2 separate regions of the Homo sapiens genome follow, and region 2 is linked to region 1. The links come from fine-mapping of genetic effects on gene expression. A gene starts in region 1. The other region holds a variant in brackets. All regions are shown on one strand. Distances are between the middles of the regions. Region 1 holds the start of ZNF880 (zinc finger protein 880). Region 2 holds the start of ZNF528-AS1 (ZNF528 antisense RNA 1).

Evidence for each region.
Region 2: its variant is fine-mapped to the expression of ZNF880 in whole blood (TOPMed, PIP above 0.99).

The regions. Positions count from the first base shown.
Region 1 is chr19:52,365,126-52,373,461 of GRCh38, forward strand. It overlaps ZNF880 (zinc finger protein 880), which reads left to right and starts at 4,798. Exons shown (of 4, transcript NM_001145434.2): 1 at 4,798-4,852; 2 at 7,986-8,112. The coding sequence starts at 4,841. It overlaps ZNF610 (zinc finger protein 610), which reads left to right. Exons shown (of 6, transcript NM_001161425.2): 6 at 573-2,653. The coding sequence ends at 1,642. RefSeq lists enhancers at 4,480-4,779, 4,790-4,899, 5,100-5,239.
Region 2 is chr19:52,389,551-52,397,886 of GRCh38, forward strand. ZNF528-AS1 (ZNF528 antisense RNA 1) reads right to left here and starts at 8,207. Exons shown (of 7, transcript NR_125345.1): 1 at 7,912-8,207; 2 at 7,645-7,717; 3 at 7,060-7,202; 4 at 6,815-6,949; 5 at 6,048-6,200; 6 at 5,241-5,297. ZNF528 (zinc finger protein 528) reads left to right here and starts at 8,299. Exons shown (of 7, transcript NM_032423.3): 1 at 8,299-8,336. It also overlaps a transcript of ZNF880 not described here. RefSeq lists an enhancer at 7,611-8,336. The variant A/C (reference allele first, on the strand shown) is at 3,082.

The DNA of each region.
Region 1 (8,336 bases):
TAGTTCCAGCTACTTGGGAGGCTGATGCAGGGGAATTGCTTGCGGAGGTTGCAGTGAGCTGAGGTGGTGCCACTGCACTCCAGCCTGGGGCAACAGAGAGAGACTCCGTCTCAAAAAAAAAAAAAAAAGAATTGTGACAGGTGTGACAGGGAGACCTTTCCCAATTAGCCTGTTGTAAAGGGTGTGGGAACACCTCACTCCTGGGATTGTGTCTCTCCTAGCTTTATGCGTATATTATACTATTACTAATGTCTATACAACTGCTCTTAAATGTCTTATTTTCTCTAAGAGGCTCATCCCTGCTTTTTCTGAGAAGCTTTCAGTTTCTGTTCTATTTTTCTGCCCTTAATCTTTCTCAAAGTCACTCATAATCCTCCCGAGTCCTGCAGATTCCCCACTGCTCCAATGCATCACGTCACCCCCTTGTGTTTTCAGCTCTCACAATGTGACATGCAAAGTATGCCGATACTTCTTCCAGTGTCTGAGTTGGGTGAGGCTGATTCTGGTCCCTCCACCAGACGGTAAACATGCCAGAATCATGGGTTCATGTTCTACTCTTTCTTCTTTTCTAGGGAGGAGCTGTGTATTGGGAAGCAATGCAGAAAACAAGCCTATTAAAAATCAACTTGGATTAACCCTTGAGGCACATCTGTCTGAATTGCAGCTGTTTCAAGCCGGAAGGAAAATTTACAGAAGTAATCAAGTTGAAAAGTTTACAAACCATCGTTCCTCAGTTTCACCACTTCAAAAAATTTCTTCTAGTTTCACAACACACATTTTTAATAAATATAGAAATGATCTTATTGATTTCCCATTACTCCCACAAGAAGAGAAAGCATACATTAGAGGAAAATCTTATGAATATGAATGTAGTGAAGATGGTGAAGTTTTTAGAGTCCGTGCAAGCCTTACTAACCATCAAGTAATCCATACTGCAGAGAAACCTTACAAATGTACTGAATGTGGCAAGGTCTTCAGTCGCAATTCACACCTTGTAGAACATTGGAGAATTCATACTGGACAGAAGCCTTACAAATGTAGTGAATGTGACAAGGTGTTTAATCGCAATTCAAACCTTGCACGACATCAAAGAATTCATACTGGAGAGAAGCCTCACAAATGTAACGAATGTGGCAAAGCTTTTAGAGAGTGTTCGGGACTTACTACCCATCTTGTAATCCATACTGGAGAGAAACCTTACAAATGTAATGAGTGTGGCAAGAACTTCAGGCACAAATTTTCTCTAACCAATCATCAGAGAAGTCACACGGCGGAAAAACCTTACAAATGTAATGAATGTGGCAAGGTCTTTAGTCTGCTTTCATACCTTGCACGGCATCAAATAATTCATAGTACAGAGAAGCCCTACAAATGTAACGAATGTGGAAGAGCATTTCACAAGCGTCCGGGCCTTATGGCCCATCTTCTAATCCATACTGGAGAGAAACCTTACAAATGTAATGAATGTGACAAAGTCTTTGGGCGCAAATTATACCTAACCAACCATCAGAGAATTCATACTGGAGAGAGACCTTACAAGTGTAATGCATGTGGCAAGGTCTTCAATCAAAATCCACACCTTTCACGACATCGGAAAATTCATGCTGGAGAGAATTCACTGCGTACCTTACAGATGGAATGAATGTGGCAAAATCTTTAGTTAGAATTCACACCTAGCACAACATTGGAGGACTCAGGAGAAAAACCTTACAAATATCATAAATGTGGCAAAGAATTTAGTTTGCATTGAAGCCTCATCACTCATCTCTTGATCCACACTGAAAGGAAACCCTACAAATGTAAAGTTAATAACATATATAAATAATCTATAAAGAGAGAACAGTTATATCAGAATAGAGCATTTAATGAAAACTACCAGTATAGCATATTCTTGAGTAGGATTCACATTTAACTGCTGGCACCGTAATTTGTAACTCTTTGATTTAGAATGTACATACTTCTCATGTTTTAAGTAATAAAGTTTAAAGTTTTTTTTTAGTTTTTTCTTTTTTTTTTGAGACGAAGTCTCGCTGTATTACCCAGGCTGGAGTGCAGTGGCATGATCTTGGCTCACTGCAACCTCCGTCTCCCGGATTCAAGCAATTCTCCTGCCTCAGCCTCCTGAGTAGCTGGGATTACAGGCATGTGCCACTACTGCCCGGCTAATTTTTGTATTTTTAGTCGAGACGGGGTTTCCCTCCGTTGGCCAGGCCGGTTTCAAACTCCTGACCTCAAGTGATCCACTGGCCTTGGCCTCCCAAAGTGCTGGGATTATAGGTGTGAGCCACAGCGCCCGGCCTAGTTTAAATTTTTCTTAGTGTGAATGAATTACATCCTTTCTACCAGCGTTGTTTAATCTTACCTCAGGAGGATACTTTATAGTAGAGAATAATAACCCATTATGATTTTAAGGTTGAAGCAGCCAGAAAAGTGTGTGTGTGTGTATGTGTGTGAGACATAAAACAACATACGCTTCTGGGTGCAATATACTTAAGTAAGTATGATGTTGAGTAATTACACTTAGTACTTGAGTTAGTTTCTCTGTACTCTGGTGTAGGATGTTTATGTGGGTAAAGTCAAAATCACTTTAATAGTACAATTTCAGCCTTGTACACCCTCAAATGTGTGTGAGTGTTAAAGAGTATGCCCTGTATTGTGTTTCTACATGCCTCTTTCTTGTGTGCCAAATAAGAACTATGGTGTGCACCTTCATTTTCATGCAGCAAAAATATATAGTAATATGACAAATATTAGGAAATAAAGTATGGGTTGAGGGCAAAAATACTGTAACATGGCCGGGCCTGGTGGCTCACGCCTGTAATCTCAGCACTTTGGGAGGCTGCATTGGGTGGATCACGAGGTCAGGAGATTGAGGCCATCCTGGTCAACATGGTGAAACCTTGTCTCTACTAAAAATACAAAAAAAAAAAATTAGCTGGGCCTGGTGGTGTGCACCTGTAATCCCAGCTACTTGGGAGGCTGAGGCAGGAGAATCGCTTGAACCCAAGAGGCAGAGGTTGCAGTGAGCTGAGATCACCCCACTGCACTCCAGCCTGGTGACAGAGCAAGGCTCCGTCTCAAAAAAAAAAAAATAATAATAATACTGTAACACAATTTCTTTTTGTACTTCTAGTGTTCAGTGACATCATTTGAAAATATTAATGTTCACCCATCTTCTTTTTAAGTCACACACAGAAAGGGAATTTTGTTTTGGTACATTAACTAGAAACTTCATATAGTCACCCTCACAACTCTTTTGGTAATTTGAATTTTTGACCACTCTTCTGGAACTTGTTTGAAGTCCCCCTAAGGTTTGGCTTGGATCTTGAGAATGATGATCCCATACACTGATATGGTTTGAGAGTGTTTATTATATAATGAGGCTCTGTGGGGGAAAGCAGGGTATACTTTTCCAGCTGGTCCAAAAGTGGCTTCAGAGAACTGGGATAGGTGACTGGCTTGGGGTGTCATGATTGCTAAAGGGTAGGGCTGGGGCGGGGATACCCACTACCCATACTGGAAACTTAGTTACAATTCACACCTAGCATGTATATTTTTATATTTTTTGTATGTATATATATTTTTACATTTTTTTCCTACATTGCCTCCAAATTCTATGTTTAATACATTTCTTCCCTGTTTTGCTCTGGTGAAAACTTTAGGGGACAAATAAATGAGTGCTGTTTGGAGACAAAATTTTGTGACATGGGACTGGGCATTGTGGCGTGTGCCTGTAGTCCCAGCTACTTGGGAGGCTGAGATGGGAGGATCACTTGATGCCAGGAGGTCGAGGCTGCAGTCAGTGAGCTGTCTGCACTTCAGCCTGAAAGACAGAGGGAGACCATCTCAAAAAAAAAAAAAAAAAAAAAAAAAAAGTTGTGACCTGAGTATGTCCATAAGACAATGGCAGGTATACACTAGGATTAATATAAATATGAAAAAAAAAAAAAAACTTGGCCGGGTGCGGTGGCTCACGCCTGTAATCCCAACATTTTGGGAGGCCAAGGCAGGCGGATCACGAGGTCAGGAGTTCAAGACCAGCCTGGCCAACATGGAGAAACCCTGTCTCTATTAAAAGTACAAAAAAGTAGCCCGGTGTGGTGGTGGGCGCCTGTAATCCCAGCTACTCGGGAGACTGAGGCAGGAGAATCGCTTGAACCCAGGCGGCGGAGGTTGCAGTGAGCCGAGATCGCGCCACTTCACTCCAGCCTGGGCAAAAGAACGAAACTCTGTCTCCAAAAAAAAAAAAAAAAAAAAAAGGAAATTGCACATTCCGCCCTGGCAGGGTTTTGCATTTCATATTTTAATTTGCATCCCCTTCATAAACAATTCAAGGACTTTAAAATTCCGGAAACTAGTGTTTATTATTCATTTATATTTATTTATTTTAATTATTTATTTCCAATTTGTTATTTATGATTATGTATTTATTAGGCGCAAGGTTTCTCTCTCATGCCCAGGCGGGAGTGCAGCGCACGACCTCGGCTCACTGCAGCCTCCACCTCATGGGCTCAAGCGATCCTCCCACCTCAGCATCCGGGTAGCTAGGACCACATGCGAGCGCCCCTACAGCCGATTTAAAATTAATTTTAATAGCAGGAATTTTCCTGGATCTAATCATCAACAAACTTTCCCTCTGCCGGGACACAATCTATTTCCAGATAGCTGAGTTCTTCCAGTCTCCACGGCAGGTCTAGCCTCCAAAACGAGACGAGCTGGGAGCGAGGCGGAGGGAAGCGCAGGCTCCGCCCAATCCCACCCGGGCCTGGCCTCGCCTCGCCTCTCAGCTGCGCGCGCAGTTTCCTGGAGACCCGGAAGCAGATTACGTGGAGTGACGGTCATGCTGCGGCGTGTGAGTTTCCCTTTGTTTAGATTAAATCTGGGATGCTGAGTCCCCTCGCGCTTCTGTACCCGGCATCTCAGGGGTCACACAGACCTTGAAATCCCCGCATCGCTCCCTCCACCCCGACTAAACTCAGACGTTCTAATGAGAGTCTGGCGGTCGCTTCCCTGAGTGTTAAAATCGCTCGGAGGCTGGTCCTGTCCCCGGTCTTTCACCACAGGGCCATGTAGACAGCTCCTGTCGCGGAGTTTGCCTGCTTCAAATCCTTCAGTGACCCCTAGACACGGCCCGCGCTGCGTAAAGTTCTCACCCGCGAGATGGATCCACGTCTTTCCGGTCCCCCAAGCCTCGCCCTCTTTTCACAGGCCTGCCCCCTTTTCTGTGCCTTAAATGAGAGGAAATCGATCTGATGTTTACTGCTGATTGTGATGTTTCAGCCTCCATTGGGCTTTTGCTAACACCTAAATAAATATTTAGTGGACAAAATTAGGTTAGTGCAAAAGTAATGGCAAACCGCGATCACTTTTGCACCAACCTAATATTTATGGGCCGGGGCTGGAATTCCATCTTCTCCGGAGGCCCAGGCTGGAGAATTCCTTGAGCACAGGAGTTTGAGACCACTCTGGACAACATAGTGAGACCCCCATCTCAATTTTTGAAACATATGTTTCAGTACGGGTATTTAATAGAGATTGGAATTCTCGTTTCTATGTTTTTACATGGTCTGACTTTTTGAAATAGTTTGAAATAATGTTTATAAACTGAATTGAGCACAGTTTATACATTTTTATTGTTGCAAACATGCTGAAATGCACATTTGCAAAAACAACGACAGCCAGGCACAGTGGTGCACGCTTGTCATTCGAGTTACTCGGAGAGGGTGTCATTTGAGGCCAGGAATTCAAGGCTGTAGTGTGCCATGAATAAGCCACTGCACTGCAACCTGGACACATTAAAAAACGAACAAAGACAAATATCTAAAAAAGAGGTTATTGACAGACAACTCTTTCAGTTGTCACATATATGTTTACTAGAGTATATGTGTGTGAATGTATATATGTATATGAATAAGTGTGTACATGTGATGTGTGTGGATGAGTGCACAGATGAGCAAGTCTATTGTTTTTATCAAAGGCGCATCATCAGTTTATATACGTCTTATATCTTTTAACAGTTGAAATTACATCTTATATATTTTCATGACCTTAAAATTGTTCTACACTGTTATGATAGTGAGTCTATGGCTGTAAGGATAGTAACCTGTTATGGGGATACATGTGCGACAGTTTCTTGATTTTAATCCCGGAACTTATTTTAACTATACTCAGTTAGGTCATTGTCTGTCAATTTACTTTTGATGCTGATCTGTTATTGTTTGATGTTTTTTTTTTTCTTTTTCTGAGATGGAGTCTCTCTTTGTCACCCAGGCTGGAGTCTCGCTTTGTCACCCAGGCTGGAGTGCAGTGGCACCATCTCAGGTCACTGCAAACTCTGCCTCCCGGGTTCAAGTGATTGTCCTGCCTCGGCCTCCCAAGTAGCTGGGATTACAGGTGCCCACCAGTACGCCTGGCTAATTTTTTTATTTTCGGTAGAGATGGGGTTTCACCATGTTTGCTAGGCTGGTCTTCAACTCCTGACCTCAAATGATCCACCTGCCTTGGCCTCCCAAAGTGCTGGGATTGCAGGCATGAGCCACCACGCCTGGCCTAATTCTTAAAGTTTGATTCTAATGCCCAGACTCCTGGGATCTGGCGCTTACTCTGCCATTTTTAGCCTTCACACCTGGGGCAAGTTTCTTAGAATGTCTGAGAAAGAGTTGTCTCTTCAATAGGATGGGAACAGATTGTTCTTTTATGGGCTTTTGTTGTTATAGCCGTTAGTACATGTACAACATTTAGAAAGTGCCTGTCACATGGGAGGTGTTCAAAAGCTTCATCCTGGCTGGGTGAGGTAGCTTACGCCTGTAATCCCAGCACTTTGGGAGGCCGAGGCGGGAGGATTGCTGAGGTCAGGAGTTCAAGACCAGCCTGACCAACATAGTGAAAACCTGTCTCTACTAAAAATAGAAAAATTAGCTGGGCACAGTGGTGGGTGCCTGTAGTCCCAGCTACTCGGGAGGCTGAGGCAGAAGAATCACTTGAACCTGGGAGGCGGATGTTGCAGTGAGCCAAGATTGTGCCACTGCACTCCAGCCTGGGCAATAAAGTGAGACTCCATCTAAAAAAAAATTATATATATTGTATCTGACGCTTCTATAGAAATAACTGTGGGTTAATTTTTTGTATTTCTTATGTTGTCCACAAAATTAGAAATCTCTACTAATTTTTTTTTTTTTTGGAGACAGAGTCTCGCTCAGTTGCCCAGGCTGGAGTGCAGTGGCACCATCTCGGCTCACTGCAAGCTCCGCCTCCCAGGTTCACGCCATTCTCCTGCCTCAGCCTCACGAGTAACTGGGACTACAGGCGCCCGCCACTACGCCTGGCTAATTTTTTTGTATTTTTAGTAGAGACAGGGCTTCACCATGTTAGCCAGGATGGTCTCGATCTCGTGACCTCATGATCCACCCGCCTTGGCCTCCCAAAGTGCTGGGATTACAGGTGTGAGCCACCGCGCCCGGCCTAGAAATCTATACTAATTTAAAGAATATCAGGTTGGGCATGCAGTGGCTCATGCCTGTAATCCCAGCACTTTGGGAGGCCGAGGTGGGCGGATCACGAAGTCAGGAGATCGAGACCATCCTGTGTAACATGGTGAAACCGCATCTCTACTAACAATACAAAAAAAAAAAAAAATTAGCTGGGCGTGGTGGCGGGCGCCTGTAGTCCCAGCTACTCGGGAGGCTGAGGCAGGAGAATGGCGTGAACCTGGGAGGCGGAGGTTGCAGTGAGCCAGGATCGCGCCACTGCACTCCAGCTTGGGCGACAGAGCGAGACTCCGTCTCAAAAAAAAAAAAAAAAAAAAAAAAAGAATGTCATAACTTCTAATGGAGAAGTATATTAAAACACAATTAGAAACATATAACTAGCTAAAAAAATACCTTAACGTGGATTTGTCAGAACATCCACTTCAATCAAGTCAGTCCTTACAACTGTCTCCTCATTTTGTGTGATATCCTGTTGGTGAAATGTGTTTTTCATTTTAGGGACACTTGGCATTCAGGGACGTGGCCATAGAATTCCCTCAGGAGGAGTGGAAATGTCTGGACCCTGCTCAGAGGACTTTATACAGGGAAGTGATGGTGGAGAACTACAGGAACCTGGTCTTTCTGGGTGAGGATAATGTCCCTTCAGAAGTCAAGATCTGCCCTGGTGTATTTTTGCATTTTGTCGTGTGCCTCTTAGCATCTTAGGAGTCACTGTATTGCTTGACTGAGATTGAAACCCTGTTGACTCAGAAATGAAAACCTCCATAATGCTTTATAATGCTGTATTTTTCAGAAACAATAAGCTCCATAATACTTTCTGGACTTAAAATAATTGCTTTCTTCAGAATT
Region 2 (8,336 bases), 24 kb after region 1:
GACTTTGCAGGGTACAGCTCCTCTCCTGGCTGCTTTCACAGGCTGGTGTTGTGTCTGCTACTTTTCCAGGCACATGGTGCAAGCTGTCGGTGAATCTACCATTCTGGGGTCTATAGGAGGGTGGCCCTTTTCTCACGGCTGCACTAGGCGAGTAGTGAGTAGTCTGTGTGGGGGCTCCAACCCCACATTTTACTTCTGCACTGCTCTAGCAGAGGTTCTCCATGAGGGCTCCGCCCCTGCAGCTCACCTCTGCTCCAGTTCCAATAAAGTTCCTCATCTCCATCTGAGACCACCTTCAGCCTGGACTTTTTGGTCAGAACCATTCAACAACCATTTTCTAGGAAGCTCCAAACTTTCCCACGTCTTCCTGTCTTCTTTTGAGCCCTCCAAACTGTTCCAGCCTTTGCCTGTTACCCAGTTCAAAATTTGCTTCCACATTTTGAGGTATCCTTATAGCAGCACCCCACTCTATACCATTACCAATTTACTGTATTAGTCTGTTCTCACGCTGCTAATAAAGAAATACCCGAGACTGGGTAATTTATGAAGACAAAGAGGTTTAATGGACACAGTTCCATGGGGTCGTGTCCCCCGTGCTTCTGCCACAGGGCCATATAGACAGCTCTTATCGCGGAGTTTTCCTGCCTCAAATCCTTCAGTGTCCCCTGCACTGGCCCGCACCTTTTTTAAAGTCCTCACCGCAAGGTTGATTCCCGCCCTGGGAGCTTCCCATCTGCTCCGCTCCCTCGTCAGCTCCTGGAGCGCAGCGACGCAGCCCCAGTCCCAGGGAGGCCGTGAACTCTTCCTGGTCCTGGGATCCTGCAGACCCTGCCCCTCTCCTGACTTTCTCCTGCCTTTTTCCTCCTTGATCGGGGGCCCTTCTGCTCCCCAGGCCTCCCCTTCTCCTGATATCGAGTGTGGGGACGTGACTTCTATCTCAGGACGTTAAGGTTTCTCTTGTCCCAAATTCCATCCCACAGGAAATGGGCTCTTGAGGTGGGGATCTGACTGCAGTCCCCTCCCTATGAATGTGTGGAGGAGAGGAAATAGAAAAATGGTGAAATGGGAAAGAAGAATGAAGGAGACCCATAAACAGACGGCAGCTGGGTGCGATGGCTCACGCCTGTAATTCCAGCACTTTGGGAGGCTGAGGCGGGCAGATCACCTGAGGTCAGGAGTTTTGAGACCAGCCTGACCAACATGGAGAAACCCTGTCTCTAAAAAATACAAAATTAGCCAGGCATGGTGGCGAATGCCTGTAATCCCAGCTACTCTGGAGACTGAGGCAGGAGAATCGCTTTTACCCGGGAGGCGGAGGTTGCGGTGAGCCAAGATCGCACCATTGCACTCCAGCCTGGGCGACGAGCAAAACTCCATCTCAAAAAACAAAAAACAAAACAAAACAGATGGCAAAGTAGATGGTGGATGAGGGATTTGCAGAGACAGTGCATGAAGATGCTGAGAAAGGAGCAGGGGGAGAAAAGCAACTAGAGAAATTTAGAGAAAAACTGGGTTTCTAGAGAGATAAAGTTCAGCAAGATAGGGAGAGGGGCAGAAAAGGGGAGGCTCCTCAGATGGAGAGTTGGGGAGAGAAGGAGGGATTTGGAGCCAGGGCAGACAGAGCAGCATGGTGCTGGGAGAGCAAGAGGGGCAGCCAGTGATAAGGAGAGCACAGGGAGAACCACAGCCTGGGGAGAACTGGGATCTGGGGATGCCAGAGAGGGGACAGGTGGATATAGCAGGGAAGAGGGGATTTAACAGGGGAAGCTAGGGGGCAGCAGAGACGGGGGGAAGAAAGAGGCAGAACTATATGAAAATTGGAGACAAATATTGGGCAGAAAGAAGAATAAGAGGTGAAAGAAGTGAGAAAGGAGCAGAACAAGTGGAAGAGAAGGAATAGAGGGAAGAGCAGGAGAAGGAAGAAGGGCTTGAAATGAGGAGAATCCTAGGGGAAAAATAAAGAGAAAAAAAAAGCTAGGAAAAGAAGGTGAGAATGAGAGGTAGGTAGAGAAACACACAGTAATGAGGAAAGAGGGGGACACTCAATCCAGATGAATGATGAATTGATTGGATATTATGATTAATTTCTCTATAATAAACATCACATTTGTTTAAAATATACAGATGAAGATGAGAATTGGAAAACTGTCTATAAGGCATGTGCATTTCCTAATTCTTGGTATCAGAGGTTAGCTTCCATTTGCTGTCCTTATTCTGCCAGACGGCAGGCAGTGACTTGACTCATTCAGGTATGGGTCACTATCTTCACTTCTGGGATGGGGTAGGGTGTGTGAGTGTATAAGATAGGAGGAAAAACCAAAGTGTTTTTTCTACTCACAATCAACACAATAGTGAATGCTCAACACAGAATGCCTCATCTCCGGTCATCAAAATGTGTGGGGATTACTTCCCACCAACAAGCTATTTTTCATCAGATAAAAACTGGGTGTTCTCTAATTGAACTCAATTTGACACCATTTATAGGGAGTTAGCATTAGATCTCACAGGAGGCTGAGGGCTCAGTTGCACAAAACTGCCCCCAGAATTTGCTATTGCTAGAGTGATTTACACAACTTGGAGAAACAATTTACTGAGGTGTACCATTTGTTATAAAGGATGTTACACAGGACACAGATCAACAGCCAGATGGAAGAGCATTCCTAATAAATTAATGGAAACAGAAGTATGTTTTGGAAACCATGGACTGACTTTCTTTCTCTTTCTCTCTTTCCTTCCTCCCTTTCTCTCTCTCTTTCTTTTCTTTCACTTTGACGGAGCCTCGCTCTGTCACCCAGGCTAGAGTGCAGTGGTGCTATCTCAGCTCATTGCAACCGCCACCTCCCGGGTTCAAGTGATTCTCCTGCCTCAGACTCCCAGGGAGCTGGGATTACAGGCGTCCACCACCAAACCTGGCTAATTTTTATATTTTTAGTAGAGACAGCATATTGCCACGTTGGCCAGGCTGGTCTCGAACTCCTGACCTCAAGTGATCTGCCTGCCTCGGCATCCCAAAGTGCTGGGATTACAGGCCTGGGCCACTGCACCCAGCCCAGGGCTTGAGTTTTAAAGGTGCCACAGTAC[A/C]CCTTGGTTCTCTTTTTTTATAAACAGGAATCTGTCTTCCTGACCTGAGTATTATCTCTATGTGGGAGCAAAGGAGAGAGCCCTGGACTCTGGAGAGTGAAGGGAAAATAGCAAAAAAATCCAGATGGGAGGGAATGGATCAAAGGTGTGAACACAGGTAAGAGCTCAGATGGGCAGAGTGGAAGCTGTATATATATATATATTTTTTGAGAGACAGGGTCTTGCTCTGTTAGCCAGGTTGGAGTGCAGTGGCAATCATAGCTCACTGCAGCCTGGAACTCCTGGGCTCAAGTCATCCTCCTTCCTCTGCCTCCCAAACTGGTGGGATTACAGGTGTGAGCCACTGCACCCTGCAAAGCCACACTAATAAATAGTGTTTGGGAAACTCTGCAACTGGGAGAATTCTGTGGAAAACCAATAGTATAAATCCTGTTAGTTTTTTTTTTTTTTTTCTTTTCTGAGACAGAGTCTCACTCTGTTGCCCAGGCTGGAGTACAGTGGCGCAATCTCGGCTCACTGCAACCTCTGCCTCCCAGGTTTAAGCTAGTCTCCTGCCTCAGCCTCCTGAGTAGCTGGGATTACTGGTGCCTGCCACCATCCTTGGCTAATTTCTGTATTTTTAGTAGAGAGAGGGTTTCACCAAGTTGGCCAGGCTGGTCTCGAACTGCTGTCCTCATTTGATCTGCCCGCCTCAGCCTCCCAAAGGGCTGGGATTACAGGTGTGAGCCACCATGCCTGGCCTAAATCCTGTTAGTTTTGAATGGAAATTTTCTTTCTTTCTTTTTTTTTTTTCTGGGACAGATTCTTGCTTCGAGACAATGACAAATACAAACTAGGTTTACTGTAAATATGAGAAAGGGAAAAAATACTTTTATTGTATTAGAAGACTTGAAATCACATGAAGTGATACCAATCTTTTGTTGTTGTTGGTCAGATGTTTTAGCTATTTTAGGTGTTTGGGTTTTTTGTCTTTCTACATAACTGCTAACCTTGTTAGTATCTGCAGAATGCCTTAATTAGGAAAGGTATTAACCCTATGTGTCAGATTTGTATAATTCATATTGCTTTACATGGAGTCTTCCAATAAATGTATATGGTATATGTCTCTATTTGCTGTCTTTGATTTCTTTTATCAGCATTTGGTAGTTGTAACATAACAGTTCTATGAATGTTTTGTTTCACATGTATTTCTTTGCCCCCCCCCTTTTTTTTTTTTTTTTTTTGAGACGGAGTCTTGCTCTGTCGCCCAGGCTGGAGTGCAGTGGCGCGATCTCAGCTCACTGCAAGCTCCGCCTCCTGAGTTCACGCCATTCTCCTGCCTCGGCCTCCCCAGTAGCTGGGACTACAGGCACCCGCCACCACACCTGGCTAATTTTTTTGTATTTTCTTAGTAGAGATGGGGTTTCACCGTGTTAGCCAGGATAGTCTCGATCTCCTGACCTCGTAGTCCACCTGCCTTGGCCTCCCAAAGTGCTGGGATTACAGGTGTAAGCCACTGCACCCGGCCTCTTTGACCTTTTTCTTAATGGAGCAATCATACATAGTATTTTATTTTTAATATCAGGTTTCATGTGCAAATTGCTAGTGTATAGAAATATACAAGATTATTATTATTATTATTTTGAGACAGGGCCTTACTCTGTCATCCTGGCTGGAGTGCAGTGGAGCAATCTCAGCTACTGCAACCTGTGTCCTGCAGGCTTAAGTCATCCTCCCACCTCAGCTTCCCCAGTAGCTGGCACTGCAGGCATGTGCCACCATGGCCTGTTAAATTTTTGTGTTTTGTAGAGATGGGGTTTCACCATGTTACCCAGCCTGGTCTCAAACTCCTGAGCTTGAGTGATCTGCCTGCCTTGGCCTCCCAAAGTGCTGGGATTACAGGCACGAGCCACCATGCCTGGCTGATGAAATATACGATATTTTTGTAGGTTGACCTTATACTTTGCTACCTTTACATTTTTCTTGTTCTAGAGATTTTTGTAGATTTTTTTGGAATTTTCTACATAAAATCATTTCATCAGTTTCCTATTGCTATACACAGTGATTGGCTTAAAACAAGAAAAATTTATTCTTTTATAATTCTGTAAGTCACATATCTAATATGGGTCCATAGTTCTGTGATTCTTCATTAATCTCCAGGGGAGAATTTGTTTCCTTACCCTTTGTAGGTTCCAGAGGCCACTTACATCCTTTGACTCATGGTCCACTTCCTCCATCTTTAAAGGTGAGAAAAAAAATCTCTTTATCCCTCTATTTTCAACACATCACCACTGTCTCTGTCCCTTCGCATCCACCTGCACCCTTCTGATATTGAACCTTGTGATTCTATCACTTTGACCATATAATTCAGGATGTCTATCTAAAGATCCTTATCTAGACCACATTTGCAAACTCCCTTTTGATATATCCAGTAACACAGGTCATAGGGATGTAGCTACCTTCCTTTGGGAAAGGTATTAGCCTGCACAACCAACATATTTTCTGTTGGTACACTATTTTTTTTGTCCTGTCCTCAGGCCACCCTCCTTCCTCAGCCTCCCAAAGCACTGTGATTACAGGCCTCAGACACCACACCCAGCCTGTCACTTTTATTTCTTTTTCCTTTATTTCACTGGCTGGAACCTTTCATATTGTGTGGAATAGTAGTGATAAGAGGGGACATTCTTGCCCTCATCCCAACCTCTAGGGGAAACTATGCTTTCACCAGTTTGTATGATGATTCTGATTCTGTAAGGATTGGTAGGTGATCTTGAGTTGAGGAAGTTTCCCATGATACTGCTTTCCATACTGACCGCAGTATTTCAGATTCCCACAAAATGTACGAAAATAGTTTCTCCACATCCTTGCTTGTGAAGCAGGTTCACTGCACACTGGTTGCCAATGTGTCTGAGTTGAGTGAGAGATAATCTCACGGACACACAGTAAGTTACATGAAGTGAATTTGTTACATACAGATCGGCAGATACCTGGGATTCATGCATTCTGCTCCCCAAGGCTCAGGAAAACCACCCAGTGCAGATGCAGTCTCTCTGTATGTGTTCAACTTGCATCACAGCTGTGGGAGGCTGGAAGGCGGCCCATCCTGGGTTTCATGCTCCAGGGATGCATGGCACGTTGGCCTAAAGCAACAAAGGGGATCCTGTTCTGGGGATCTGGAACACATCCTGTCCTTTTCTCACCGGTCCCTTCCTCTCAGGATGTTGCTTTTCCAGCACATTCTATATTCATTCTTGGGAACTACAAGTGAGAAGTCAGATGCAACTGGGCCAATTCAACCCCACTTGAATGCTGTCCTGCAGTCTCTCCGCCAATCCAGATATCCCTTTTATTTTTATATTTTTTGAGACGGAGTCTCGCTCTGTCTCCCAGGCTGGAGTGCAGTGGCGCAATCTTGGCTTACTGCACCTCCACCTCCCAGATTCAAGCAATTCTTGTGTCTCAGCCTCTCGAGTAGCTGGGACTACAGGCGTGTGCCACCATGCCTGGCTAATTTTTTTTTTTTTTTTTTTTGTATTTTTAGTAGAGACTTCGTTTCACCATGTTAACCAGGCTGGTCTCTAATTCCCGACCTCAGGTGATCTGCCCTCCTCGGCCTCCCAAAGTATTGGGATTACAGGCGTGAGCCACCACGCCTGGCCCAGATATCCCCTTTAATAAAGCTAGTCCATTTACATGTGCACTGACCTCCCTGGATCTGGAGGTAGAGGCTGGTCTCAGGAGATTGAAGTAATACCTCGACTGGCAGAATCTCAGGGCAACATCATTGAGGTACAGCCAGTTGCATTTCACTAGGCTCAAGAGGATTGCTGCCTCAAGCAGGATAACCAGGCCTGCCTGGAGCAGTGCCGTAGTCCAGGATCCCAGTGACCTAGGTGAGAAGTTGGTACTCAGATCAAAGAAAAGTTCTTCAGGTGACCCCACTGTCTGCAGCCAATGGGCCTGCTTGTGGGCCTTATGTATTTGTGTTTCAAAAATAACCTGAGGGCTTGATGTGGGGGTCCTTATCTCCCATGCAAGGTGATTCATGCCTATAATCCGAGCACTTTGGTAGGAGCAGATGGGAAGACTGCTTGAGGCTAGAAGCTGGAGACCAGCCTGGGCAACAAAACCAGACTACATCTCTATTAAAAACAAAGCAACAAACAGTAGAAAATTAGCACAGTGGAGAGGCACAGGCCTTTACTCACAGCTACTCGGCAGGCTGAGACAGGGGGTCACCTGCCCAGGACCCCAGGAAGTCAAGGTTGCAGTGAGCTATGATTGCGCCACTGCATTTCAGCCTCGGTGGCAGAGACCCTGTCTTAAAATTTTAAAAAGTATTAAAAAACTAAGTTGGACCGGGCGTGGTGGCTACTCTGGAGGCTGGGGCAAGAGAATCACTTGAACCCAGGAGGCGGAGGTTACAGTGAGCTGAGTGCCTGCCACTGTACTCCCGCCTGGGGGACAGAGGGAGACGCTGTCTCAAAACAACAACAACAACAAAAAACTACGTCGTTTATGGCTATTTTTATAAGTTACTGGCTTTTTTTTTTTAAAGAATCGGTGACTTATCTTCACACTGGCCTTAGTCCTCCATGCCCAACACGATGTCCCTAGGAAAGTCTCTGGAATTGAGCACAGGGTTGACCTTCACCGTCTAGAGTGAATGGGGAAGATAAATGAAAAGTATTTATCTTCTATGGGCACTGGCATGAAATAGAACATTCTACCCTGGCAGGGTTTTGCATTTCACATTTTAGCTTGCATCATCCCCTTCACAGACAATTCCAAAGTGTGTTAATTCAATTCCTAAAGCTTCCCTTCCCTTCCTCCCTTCCCTTCCCTCCTTACTTTTCTTTCTTGTCCATTTATTTTCGGTTTTTTTCTCTTTCTTTCTTGGTTTTCTTTCTCTTTTTCAACTTCTCTTTCTTTTCTCTTTCTCTTTACTCTCTCTCTTCTCTCTCTTTCTGCTTCCAGGGTAGGTGGGACTTGAAATTCATTTTAATAGAAGGAATTTTCGTGGATATAATCTACAACCGATTTTGCTCTGCGCAGGTAAGATCCGTTTTCAGACCAAAACCCTGAAAACAAGCGCAGCCAGTCAAGCGAACGGAAGCGCAGGCCCGGCCCAGGCTTTGTCCCGGCCCGCCCTGGTCCCAGCCAGTCCGGCCTCTAGGATGCGCGCGCAATTTCGTGCAAACCCGGAAGCGGACCGCGGGGGGCGAACGCCTAGAGCGCAGTTTCCGGTAGACCCGGAAGCCGATTGCAGGGAGAAA